2 linked regions of the Homo sapiens genome follow. The protein of the gene in region 2 purifies or fractionates together with the protein of the main gene of each other region. This does not show direct contact. Each region holds a gene or a part of one and is shown on either strand. Other genes may lie near its edges.

Evidence for each region.
Region 1: the proteins of ITM2C (region 2) and MTNR1B purify together in Homo sapiens (tandem affinity purification; 2 studies listed by IntAct). This does not show direct contact.

Annotation. Positions count from the first base shown.
Region 1 is NC_000011.10:92,979,651-92,984,248, reverse strand, and holds the end of MTNR1B (melatonin receptor type 1B), read right to left. Parts: intron 2,803-4,598; coding exon 1,937-2,802; 3' UTR 1,467-1,936; downstream 1-1,466.
Region 2 is NC_000002.12:230,860,061-230,868,941, reverse strand, and holds the start of ITM2C (integral membrane protein 2C), read right to left. Parts: upstream 4,001-8,881; 5' UTR 3,917-4,000; coding exon 3,797-3,916; intron 1-3,796. UniProt on the Homo sapiens protein: Negative regulator of amyloid-beta peptide production. May inhibit the processing of APP by blocking its access to alpha- and beta-secretase.

The sequences.
Region 1 (4,598 bases), on a different chromosome or scaffold from region 2:
GTGGCTAGGGGACTAAGCACAGCACCCAGCCTAGATTCCTCACATTGCAAGGCCAGAAAGAGGATCCAGCATAATGCTAAGAGGTCAGCACACCAAGAAAATCCTGGGTTCTTCATTCAGGAAAGCCGCTGGGTGGCTGAGGACCCCAGGCACATTGTGGACATGCAGTACTTAGCCCACTGCACTTTGTCCCTGCCACATATTCCGAGGTGGGATGATGGGGGATAGAAGTAGGGTGCTGTCATCAGACAGACTTGAGCTCCACATCTAGCTCTGAACATAGCTATCTGAATTCTGGCAATCATTCCACATTTTTGAGTTTCAGTTTCTTACTATGAAAATTGATCATAGTATCTTTTTCCAAGAGTTTTGTGGGGATTAAATGACATAATGCATATCAAGCCCTTACCACAATGCCTGGTACATAGAAAGCACCAATGGATATTACTTGATACTAATTTATCAACAGACTGTGACCTTGCAGAGGGCAGGCAACAAACCAGTCCTGGCCCACAGAGGGCACTCAGTGTTTGTGGAACTGAAGAAAGCTATTAATTCTGTTGGCGCTAAACAAAGATCTGAGATTTCTACGAATATAAAGTCCACAAATACATAACCATAGAAATGAATTGGGGTGCAGCTGCCCTTTCCCCACTTCCATGTCCCCTACCCCATTTTCTCCCCTTCCCTTCCTGTCCTTCTACTTCTTCTTCTTTTTTTTTTTTTTTCTGAGACAGGGTCTTGCTCTCACTTTGTCACCCAGTCTGGGGTACAGTGGCACAATCTCAGCTCACTGTAGCCTCAACCTGCTGAGCTGAAGTGATCCTCCCACCTCAGCCTCCTGAGTAGTTAGGACCACAGGAATGGGCCACCATGCCCAGCTAATTTTTGTAGAGACAGGGTTTTGCCATGTTGCTTAGGCTGGTCTTGAACTCCTGGGTTCAAGCTGAGGCAGGGGTGAGGCACCGCATCCGGTGATAGCCCTTCCTTTCTTTGTATATGACTTTTCTCCTTCATTTTATGTAGTTATAATAATAACAAAAGCTAATGATTACTGCCTGCTAGCCACATGTCAGGCACTGTCCTCAGCTCTGCAGATGTGTTATCCCAGAGAATCCTCACAACAACCTGGGAGGCTGACTACGGCATGATCTTCACTTTAAGATGAGTAAACTGAGGAACAGGGAGGTTAGGAGACTTTCCCCAAGTCACACAACCTGAACATGATGGAACCAGAAAAGGAGGCCAAGCGGACTTTGTGCTCCAGATGCTGGAGCAGTGTGACTGTGTGTGTGTGTGTGGGGGGGGGGGGTGCAGTGTGTTTGTGATGTGGTGGCTATGTGTGTGTAACATATGTATGTGTACACAGTGTATGTGTGCATAGTGTGGTGTGTCTGTGGTGTGATGCATGTGTGGTTGTGATTGTGTGTGTGTAGGGAAGGTCAATGGCGGAGTGTGGAATGCTTGCCCTCTGCACCTGCCCCACCTGAGGCCCTTGCAGTTACCAAGTTCCAGTCCTACTGACCTCTCTCTTTCATCCTTGCTAACAGGAAGAGATCCTGCCACGCTGGGGGGAAGGGGAGAAAGCAGCCAGGAGGCCAAGGCAGGAGGATGAGGGTCAGCTATGAGAAGGAGTTGGGCTCTTCTGCCCCAGGCCTTTCCTCATTCTGTCCTTTCCTTGGTCTTGTGTGCACCAAATCCCCAAGACACCACCAAGAGTGTTTTCCAGGTCCTGTGGCCTGTGAGCATCTCCTGGATCAGCCTGAACCCATGGCGTTGATGGGCTGCTTGTCCCAGCATGAAGTTCCCCCAGCCTTGGGGCTGTGATGCCAACAGGACAGTGTGGCCCAGCAGGCTGCCTGGTCTCACCCTTGCAGCAGACTCTCTCCCACCATTTCATGAGTTTGTCATGCTGCTGGTGTGCCTCAGATCCAGGCTAGAGAGCATCTGCCTGGTGCTGCACACCAATGATGGGTGGAGCTGGGCTCTGCAGCCCCTCCGCGTGGCTGCCCTTGGAAGCATCTTGAATGCAGTGCCGTGGGTTCCAAAGGGCCAAGAGGATCCTCTTGTATTCCCTGCGGAAGTTTTGGTTCAAGAGCCCATAGACAATGGCATTCAGGCAGCTGTTGAAATAAGCCAGTAAGTAGCTAGTGACAAATAGCCCCTCAGGGATCTGGGGAGCCATTTCTTGGGGGTTGATGGCCACAGCGAGGCCGATGCAGTTAAGTGGAGCCCAGCAGATGGCAAAGATCACAAACACCACAAACATGGTTAGAAAGCTCCGCAAGTCGCTGGGCTTCAGGCACAGCCTGCTCTCTGGCTTGGCTTTCCTGCGGGCCTGAAGCACCAGCACCCAGATGCGCAGGTAGCAGAAGGACACGACAGCGATAGGGAGGAGGAAGTGGATGACCACCACTGCCGCCGTGTACTGGGTGCTGGCGGTCTGGATGAAGGTGCAGGAATAGATGCGTGGGTCGTACTCCAGGGACCCCACAAAGAAGTTGGGCAGCAAGGCCACCACGGTGAGGAGCCAGATGAGGCAGATGTGCAGAGGGGTGTGCCAGCGCCGGTAGATTCGGTGGTAGGCCATGCTGTGGCAGATGTAGCAGTAGCGGTTAATGGCGATGGCAGTGATATTGAAGACAGAGCCGATGACGCTCAGGCCCATCACAAAGGCGCTGGCCTTGCAGTGCTCCTCCCCCAGGGCCCAGCCGTCATAGAAGATGGCCACGAGGATTAGCGGGTAGGGGTAGAAGGCCACCACCAGGTCAGCCAATGCCAGACTCACCAAGAACAAATTACCTGAAGCAGCAAACAGAGCAACAGTCAGCACGAGACCCCACGACTTAGATTCTGTAGAACATCCTACCCTCCACGAAGTTACTTTTGGCAATGTGAGTGGAAACCAAGTGGCTCTTAGAGGCACAGAACTGAAGACTCAGATTGCATTTCTGCCACTCACTAGCTATATGACTGAGGCAAGCTGTTTAGGCTCTCAGAGCCCCATTTTCCTCATTTGTGAACTAGGGGCAGTGATACCTACCTCATAGTATAGCTGTAAGAATTAATGATACAAAGTGCTCAGGGATTTAACAGGTGCTGACACATGCTAACTGTTTCCATGATAGGCACAGATGCTCACGGGCTTTGCACCATTTAAGCTCCAGCAAAGATTTCGGAGGAGGAGAGTCTGAAAGTCAGGAGTGTGGATTTCTCATCACTATCATCGCTCCCTCACATTCCCTCACCTCCTCGCACATCTCTCTGGTTGTCTCCTTTTGCATTTTCTCCCCACTGGTTAACAGGCTACTTTCTAAGTGTCTTTACATGGGTTTTGTAAATGTGAATTGCATTTTGCAGCTGGACTAGAAGAAAGGTGTTGAGAGTGGGAACCATGTGTTTCTGGTATTCCCATTTGTGCCCTGTCTGGGTCCAGTACTCCCAGCCTTGTGGCCATGTTGACAGACACTTGCAGTAGCGGCACAGAGCCCCAGCCCTGTGGGGTGAGAAAGGGCTGTCAGCACTCCTAAGCTCACAGCCTCTGGGGGGCCTCCCTGCTTTGCCTGCACCATGGTGGCCTTCCTGGACTATCTAGGCATTTATCCTTTGAATGGAGCCTTATCCAACATCACCAAGCTTGGTCAACCAGAGAGAGCCTCAGGAAATGATACACCCATCAATTAATATGCTTCAGGCATGTTCTAAGCTGGAGTCCCAGGGCAGAGGCAGGGCTTACTCTAAAAGAACACAATCTCTGCTCCTCAAGTGTTTGCGTTCTAAAACCAACACTGACTCACGAATAGAGCACCAAGAACCTAAACGTTTGGGCAATACAAAGCTCATAGTGTGAGCAGTTCCATCACTAATGCCAATCTTCTCATTCACCAAGTGTTGTACTTTTTGAATACCTACTGTATGCTCAAAAGATAACAGACTCTCCCTCCAGCAGGGTCCCTGAGTGATGCAATGTGCACTGGGCATGGTATTTTAAATTTTCTGGTCTCTTGCCACATGGTGAAGCCTCCAGCCTTAGGGTGGCGGAATGCAGAGGGCGGCTGGGATGGTGTGCAGGAGGAACTCCCAAGTCAGCAAAGACACAGACATGGAAACTCCACAGCCACCATGTGTCTGTCCCATTGCCACAGAGGCTGTGGTGGCTTTGGGGGTCTAGAGGGTCAGGCAGGTGGAAAGAGCCCCCAAAGCACAGCAATTGGAGAGGCCAGGCTCTGTGTGGATTCCACGGGGTACAGAAAAAGGGAGGCTGAGAGCCGCCCAGCTGGGATTTCACCTGAGTCAGCCCTTCAAGTGAAGTAGATGGCACACCTGGACTTATTCACCCACAAGGGTAGGAAAAGGACTGCCTCCAGCCTTCCCACATTCACCCCATCTCAAAGAAGATTCCCCATAGCATGGTCCGAATGGGGATGGGAACTTGAAAGACCCTCAGGAAGCCTTCATGAAGGGCCTATTTTGACCTCAGAGGAATGGGGTCAACCCCACTGAGAACCCACACAAGTCTACTGGAGTCCTGGGAGTTCTCAAGACCTAACTATAATACTACTGTGTCCACAGCTAGGTTAGGAAACCAGGGAGACAGG
Region 2 (8,881 bases):
CCGTGGGGCCTGCCGGGGCGCCAAATCCCAGGAATGGACGACAGCCATGAAAGTCCCCACGCTGCCACAGGGAAGGACCTGGATGGAGCAGGGCCGCTGCTCCACAAAGTGCTTTCGGGCCAGGCCCTCTTGGCCAGTGGGCATCAGGACACTGGGGTAGGGCTAAGCTGGCCAGATTTGCCCTCCTGGCTGGCACGGGACCCTCCCCCAACCGCTCCAGGAGACCCAGCTCCTCCTGCCGAGGGCCTGAGACCAGGACACACTAGGAAACTGAAATCTGATCCCCAGGTATGCAGGCTGGGGAGGGGGTGACACAGGACCATTAATCAAAGGCAAATGCCAAGGAGAAAATTACAGAGGTAAGAAGATGATTGTATTTAACTTGTTTTTCTCCCCTTACAGCCCCAGCTCGTGAGCCTCTACATGCCCACATCTGTGCGTGCATGTGTGTGCATAAGTGTGTGTGTGTGTGTGTGTGAGTGCAGGCACAGGCAGGGTGTGGGGAGAAGGGGCAGGCTAAGAGGGGCATGGCCAGCCAGTGGGCCCCCAAAGGGGAGGAGGGATCCAGTTGGCGCTGGGAGGGAGTGCTTTGCTGTCCCAGGGGGTGCTTCCGGTCCAGCCCACTTCCCAAGCTGGCAGTGTCCCAGCTCCTCATTATCTCAGAGTCAAAACACCAGGGGGGGAGGCCGGGCAGCTGGAAGCCCAGCTGGCCCCCACCCCCATCCCTCCCTGGCCCACTGAGGCACTTCCTTCCAGTCTCAGGTCCACAGACAAAATCCTCCTTGTGTTGCAGTTTTTGCTCAGAAGCAGGGGCAGTGCCCACCGAGAGGGTGCTCCTGCCGCCTCACCCTGCCCCCACCCCGCCCTCACTCTGGGCCTGGACACAGGTCAAGAACTGCCCCAACGCACAATCATCTGTTCACCGCACAATCATCTGTTCACCGAGTGCTCCTCCTGCGGATCACTTTTTACATCTTGTTTTGGGCCGGGTGTGGTGGCTGACACCTGTAATCCCAACAATTTGGGAGGCTGAGGTGGGAAGATCACCTGAGGTCAGGAATTTGAGACCAGTCTGGCCAACATGGTGAAACCCTGTCTCTACTAAAAATACAAAAATTAGCCGGGCATGGTGGCAGGTGCCTTTATTCCCAGCTACTTGGGAGGCTGAGGCAGGAGAATCACTTGAACCTGGAAGTGAAGGTTGCAATGAGCCAAGATCGTGCCACGGAACTCTAGCCTGGGTAAAAGTGAGACTCTGTCTCAAAAAAAAAAATAAAATAAAATAAAATAGATAAAATAAAATAAATCTTGTTTTGGAGTCCAGTTCAGACACCAAGGAGGGTTCTGGGGTCACTGCCAGCCAGAAGAAACGTTTTAATAAGCTTTCCTGGGCATTCCCAACAGTACGGGACAAAATCTACACGCCCTGCCCTGAGAAAGCAGCCTCCTGGCTGCCATCCCTCGGCTCACAGAGCTACAGCTGAGAAATGGGCCTCCTGCCTGCTCACTGCTGGGGGCAGGAGACGAGGCCTGGCTCCTTGCCAGAAACTGGGTAAGGAGGAAATGTGCGGGTTGGCCAAGTGGGGCAACAGGAGGCCCGCAGAAGTGAACTGTTTCCAAGGCTCCAAATCTAGCAGGTGATGGGCAGAGCCAACTTGCAACACCTAAAGTCCCTCTGCACCACGCCAGGGCCTTGGGAAGCTGTGAAAGTTTACTAACATGCAGTTCTGTCCTAAAGATGCCAGGATTCTAATTCTTTCCCCAGATCGCATAGTCCTAAGCTCCCCCTTGCCAATTAGAGAGGGAGGGGACCCTGCCCAACTGACAAAGTTTGAGGGAGGAGGTACTCAGCAGGCTCAAGGCCATTACAAACAGCACGCAGGAAGATGTTGATATTTCCATTTCATGCTGGGTGAGGGGGAAGAAAGGACGCTCAATTTCAGAGCCTGATGAGAAGCCAGAAGCTAGGATGTCAGTTATGCCCCGAGATGCAGGTCTCTGTCAGACTGCCCAAACCCATGCCATCAGCAGGCTGCGGCTGGAGAATGTGCCGCTCCTGCAAAATCTGGGGGACCTTCTGATGGAGTTGGAATAACACCCTCCCACTGTCTGACCTGGTCCTCCCTCCTCAAATATCTCCAGGAAGAGGTGGCTAGGAAAAGAGATGGGCAAGCGTGCTGCCTCCTGCCCCCATCCCTGCCCCTCCCCAGGCTGAGTGGAGGGCAGCTTCCCTTCCAAAGAAAAGGAGTCTTGAAGAACCCCTTGCAAACTTTTAAAGCTGCAGAACCATCTTCTTCAAATATGGAGCGCCCCCTCCACCTAAGCTTCAGATGAAAAGGGGGGAGCTGCTCTCATGGGGTGCACAGCAACCCCCAACCTCGCCTAGGTGGTTGTTGAACTCTTGTGGCTCTGAGCCACTGGTTGCTGCAGTGACCACCATAAAAGGGCAGGGGGTTCTCAGTCTCCTGGCATTCCTCACTCAGGGTCTCTGCCCAGGCTGACACCCAACTCTGACGGCCCTCTCCGGCGCCCCCTCCTCCAGGGTCCAGGTCATCCTCTGCAGGCCCCTTAATGCCCCAGGCAAGACTGAACCTGAGCCACAAAACCTGGGGAGGGGGCTAGGCGTTCAGGAAGACTCTTCAGAAGCCTGCATCTGGAAGTGGGGAAGCAGTGGACAAAGACTTTCTCAGTCCTGCCTCAATGCGGGGTGGGGAGGCGGGGAGGACATGGGCTTGGTAAGCCACAAGACCGCTGGGGGCGGCGCCCACGTAGACACCTTTGCCAGGCACAATAAAACCTGGCTGGGCCAGCTCTCCCTCCCTCCCTGTCCCTGCCCGCCACGCGTTCTGCCCCCTGCGGGCCCTTCCCGGACACAAGGCACGCAGCTCAGACAGTTTTCCACGGCGGAAATGCCTTCTCTCCCCCCCGGCCAGAGGGAAAGTGGAGGAAGCCGGGGTAGGGGAGGGGGATGACAGGGGTGGGGGAACGCGCACAGAGCCCGGGGACCCAGGATGCAAGGGCACTGGGGCAGTTGGGAGCCCTCCCCGTGGGGTCGGGGGACAGCCCAGCGAGAGGCTGGGAATGGAGAAAAGAGAGGGGAGCAGGGAGGCCCAGACGGCAGGGCGTGGGGTGGGAAGGGGGCACCCGGCCTCGGACCCCCGACGTCCAGAGGCCGCAGCGCCGTCGGTTCTGGCTGATTTCCATTTCATCACTTTCTGGTCTGTCAATTCCGGTGCAGGCCAGCAGCACATCCTCTGTCCCTCGCAGCCCCCAATTTCGGAGGAAATCAACGGCCCCACCCTCTTCGTTGGTACCAGACCCCCCCACCCCCAATTCCCCAGCCAATCAGGTCCCACCGCCCTACTTTGGAAAAACTACGTCTAACCCTCCTCCCATCCCCCACCTGGGGACTCGACTCGCGGCTTTCCCAGTTGATTGGAACCAGACGCGTACCCCCCCACCAACATTCCTCGAACTTCTTCGGACCAGCCCCCTCCCCCTATAAGGCGGCGAGGGGGCCCCCACTTTTGGAAGAGACCTCGAGCACTTCTCCACCTGAAGACCAGAACCAGACGCCTCCCACTCTTCGGACTTCAGCTTTTGGCTGCCGCTTTAGTACGGGACTTAAGCCCCCTCCTCATTCTGGGATAAGCAACCATTCGAGACTTCCCAACCCTGCTCCACCCCGGGCTCTGGGGCCCTGACGCGCCTCGGGCAGTCCCCAGGGCCGACGGGGCGCGCCTGGGTCGTGAGCCTGGGTCCCCCGCCCCACCGCCTGAGCCCCAGACCCTCTCACCCTAGCCGGCGTCAGCAGGATCTCGGTGGCCGAGGCCGGCGCAGGGGCCGACGCCGACGCCTTGTCAGCCTTGTCGCCCTTGATGCCAGCCACGGCGGGCTGGAAGCTAATCTTCACCATGGCTGCGCCGGCCCGCGCGTCCGCCCCGCAGCCTCTGCCGGTGCAGCCTCGGTCTCTGCCTCCGCCGCTCCGAGCTCTGCAGGCACCGGAAGTTTGGATCCCGCTCGCGTCCCTCTCTCTAACCCCACCCCCAGCCCTCCCCGCCCCGTCCCCGCGGGAGGGCCCCGGCGCCCGCCGCGCCTGCGCCCCCTTCCCGCCCGCGGGGCCCGCAGTGACCCCTGCCGGGCGCGCCGCTCCGCACCTGGGGCGGGTCGGAGTTCCTTCTGCCGCTCGCTCGCACAGTCACTCACTCGCTCGCTCACTCACTCACTCACTCACTCGCTCACTCATTCATTCAGCCGTCACGCTCGGATCCGTTCTCCGTAGCATAATCCCTTCGCATTCCCTGTCCAAGGCCAGCATCCCCGCAACGCAAGTCTTTGTTAACCCAGTGTTTGCCAGGCAAATGCAGCTTCCAGACAACTCACCCGTCTCTCCTGCCCCACTTCAGGTCTTCCCCTTTAGAAACGCTGGAGCCTCCGCTCTACCTGTCCCCACGCCCCCCTCCTCCGACCTGTCCTTGGCGCGGGGAGGAGGCTTTGAGACAGGCGCCAAACTGCTGCCTCCGTCTTGCCTTCTGAAGCCATCCACGCCTCCTTCATCCTCCATCTTGCTTCTGCCTTCATTCTTTATTCCTGCAAAACCTTCCTGGGGGGTCCTGGGGTGCACGCTGGAGCCGCCTGGAGTGGAGAAGGGAAGGCCGCCCCTGCTCCCTGGCTCCTTCGTGTTGCTGCGACCTCAGTTATTGGGTGACCTCCTGAACTGCCCTTGTCTCACTCATCCAGGAGGACCCTGGCGAGAGTGGAGGGAAGACCCCCAGGGCGGGTGTCAGAGGCTCGGGTTCCACTCAAGACTCTGCTCCTCCCAAGTATCACGGGTACTGGGGAAGCAGGGGCTTCTGTTGCTGGGATGGCTGCTCTTGGCACTAACGCCCTGAATCTTTCCTCTTTGCTCCTGGTCCAGACTGGGCCAGGGACAGCGCCCAGCAACACACACAGGTTGTGCTGAGTGGTCCGCTTTGGTTCTGCTGTTGGGCTGCCAGTGGAGGGCAGGGGAGTCCGTCCGCTTCTTGAGGACAGTCCGGGGTCCTCCACTGATCTCTCTTCTCACCTTTCAGGTCTTTTGCAGCTGCCTTGGGCCCTTAGCGCCCACGTCCCAGACCCGGACCTCTTGGCTCAGATCTTGGATGAACCTAGCAACCTTGAGGACAGACAGGTGGGGAAAGAAGAAAGTCTAACTGATGCTAAGGCCACCAGCCTGGGGAACTGGGGGGAGGGAATGGGGAGGTGGAAGAAGACAGATGGTTTGGAGGAGACGAGGAGGAATCTGGTTTGGCACAGAGCCAGAGAGGAAGGTGTTATGGACTACCGCTCATCACCTGCTCCAGATCCCATGGGAAACCTGGTGTCTGGAGAAGGCAAGCTCCACGTCTTGCTTAGGCCACACCCCCAACATGCATTCCTTCACTCAGTGTTTTCCAAGCACCCCTGTGTGCCAAGCATTGTGTTAAGCTCTGTGGCAGAAAACAGAGATGCCCAAGACACAACCCAGCCACCAAGGATGTGGTCATGTGAAACCTTCTATGAGTGGCATTCTTTCACGTGCATTCAATTATTTAATTTTCATCACAGCCTCTGTGACCTACACATTAGCCTCATGTTAATAGTGATAGAAGGTAGCATGACTAAACCCAGGGTCGCAGAGCTGGTTTGGCACAAATCTCTGGTCAGCAAGACAGGGCCACCTGGGTGAAGCATCCACATGCCTGAGATTGGCAGGCGAGCACCCCACTTCCCCTGGAAGGCCTTCCCAGACCGGCTGGGATAAGTCCCTTTCCTGTGCACCTTCAGCACTGTGCACATCCCCCTCGGGCCTCTCCTTACGCTTGACCATGGACTCAATGCCGGCCAAGTGCTGGGCGTACAACCTAGTGCAGTGATTCCTAAATTTTTTGGTTTCAGGACCCCAAGAGCTTTTGTTTAGGTGGCTTATGTCTATCAACATTTACCATATTAGAAACTAAAACTCAGAAAGTTTTAAGACACAAGAATACATATATTCCATTGGGCATCAAAGCGATGTCATCACACATGTAGTCTCTGGAAAACCCCACTGCACGCTAATGAGAGAATGAGAGTGAAAAGGGCAAATAATGACTTATATTGTTGCAAAAAATAGTTTTGACCTTGGAGACCCCCCTGAATGGGTCTTGGGGGGCACCATGCTCTGCAGATCACCTGTTCAGATGCTCAAGAATCCATATTCCATGGATTCTAAGAAACACATTTCTTCACATTTTAACATCTTGAGAATCAAGATATCTTTTACAATTATAATTGGCAGTGATTAAGTAATGTCTTTCACAAGTGATAGCATCTTATATTTGATGGAGTACAGTATAGCCAGTCAATAATCCAAGGGGAGCCAGGAGGCTGCGGGAGGTCCATGTCGCATACTGAGTTTTGTGGACTCAGGGAAGGACAGCAGGGTGAATGCGGTCGTGGTGCAGCCCAGGCTCCATGCAAGACAGGAGATTTGGGTGGGAACTGGAAAGACACAGGGTGTGGACAAGTGACAGGGAAATGAGAGTCCGCACTGGGAGTGAGGAGAGTGACTCTGGGCCAGGAGCCCTCAGCTCAGTCCAACAGCCATTCCTGCCAGCACCTGAATCCTCTTTGTTCTGTTCTTGCATCTTACCCAAGTGGCAGAGCTTCTCCTGTCCCCCTTTCTGGTTCCAGGTTCTGCTCAGGGACTGCTAAGTTCTGTTGGTGAAAGTGATACCATCATGCCCCTTGGGACCAGCATGCTACCTCCTCTTGGAGGGGCATGGTGGCAGCCATGCAAAGCGGTCCCCTTGGAGCTGCAGGGTGGGACAGCTGTGGCTTCTTTAACCAGTCATTCTCCAAGCAAGGACCTCGGCCAGCAGCCCCAGCAGCACCTGGGAACTTGTTAGGAAGGCAAACCCTTTCTATGTCTATTCCGAAACTCAGGGTGTGTTCTGTGCCCACCAAGCCCTTAGTGATTCTGATGCACACTCGGGTTTGGGAACTGCTGCTCTGTCACTCTGTCCACACTCTCAACGGCCACATCCTGCCCTCTCCAGACTGCTGCACACCTCTCAGCAGCTCAGCTGCTGAGGATCTGGAAGCCATGGCTTTAGGTGGCTTATGTCTATCAACATAAGAACGCCCTCCTGCCTGCCAGCACATCCGCCCCCATCCACAGCTGCCCTTCTGCCCACTGCTCCTCCTGCCACTCGCCGCGGAAGAGGCGTCTGTCTTTTCTCTCCAGCCACTCTCTAGATGAGGATTCCACCCCTCCCCTCCTATCAGACACCTGAGACATCCATCAGCCCCCGCCTCCTAACCTTTCAGCTCTTCCTGTCAGCTCTGAAACATGCTCGTATTAGCCTTAAAACAAAAACAAACCCCTTCTTTGACCCCACGTCCTCCTCCACTTGATACCCTGTTTATCTTTTCTTCTTCTTAGCCAAACCTCTTGAAAATTCAGTCTCCATTTCCTTATCACTCCCTACACTCATCCTACCTCAATCTGGCTTCTATTCCTCCACCTCCACCTGGCTGAAATCTCCAAGCTGCTTTTCAGTCCTCATCTTCCTTGCGTTGATTTTGAGCCTCTTGGCTGAGGCCTCTCCACTAACTCTTCCCTTCCCTCATCAACTCTGGTGTGATTGGCTCCAGTGGGAAGGGCTGTTGGAATCAATCCTGCAACAGTTCACTTTGAAAATAAAATCTCAGGCTGTGCACGGTGGCTCCTGCCTGTAATCCTAGCACTTTGGGAGGCCAAGGTGGGCGGATTGCTTGAGCCCAGGAGTTCAAGATCAACCTGGGCAACATAGCGAGATCCCCGTCTCTAGTTAAAATAAAATCAGAAATGAGAACTTTTACATGTATTTGCCTGTTTCTCAAAATTTAGAAGTTGAATGTTGTTTGCAAAGATATCTAGTTTATTACAATTTAAAGCACTGGTTATGTAAGACTTATGGTTGTAACAAATCCATAGAGGGTCAGTAGATTAGCTTTCTGGAAATGTAACGGGCTCAGACAAGGGTGTGCCCATTGTCCTCAGAGTTCTTCTCAAGGAGAAGTGTGCTCCATCAATCACATGCTCTGAGTAAGGGAGTGGGTGAGTTTGAGATCCTGTTCTTCTGACAAGAGCAGCAGCTATCTTCAGCTCCACCTCCCCTACCTCCACCTGCCCCCTTCAGAGGCCCCTCTTTTCCACTGAGGAGCTAGCTGAAAGCTAAGTGTTGAAGGTAATTAAAAAAAAATTTTAGGTAAAATGAAAAACTATTTTACAAAGATATATATTCATGTATCCAACAAACCAATCAAGATACAGAACATTTCCATAATTCCAGAAAATTTCTTCCCATTCTTTTCCAGTAAATCCCCACCACCACTGGCAACCACTGTTCTGGTTTCCATCACTATAGATTAAGTTTTATCTGTTCTTTAATTTATTTTATTTTCTTTTTCTTTTTCTTTCTTTCTTTCTTTTTTTGTTTTTTTTTTTTGAGACAGAGTCTTGTTCTGTCACCCAGGCTGGAGTGCAGTGGCACCATCTTGGCTCACTGCAACCTCTGCCTCCTGGGTTCAAGCAATTCTCCTGCCTCAGTCTCCCGAGTAGCTGAGACTACAGGTGTGTGCCACTACACCTGGCTCATTTTTTTAAAGGAGGTTTTTAGTAGAGACAGGGTTTCACCATGTTGGTCAGGCTGGTCTTGAACTCCTGACCCCAGGTGATCCACCCACCTTGGCCTCCCAAAGTGCTGGGATTACAGGTGTTAGCCACCATGCCTGGCCATGTTCTTGAATTTCATATACTGTACAACATGTATTCTTTTGTGTCTAGTTTCACTCAATATGTTTATGAGGTTCATCCACAATAGTTTGTTCTTTTTAC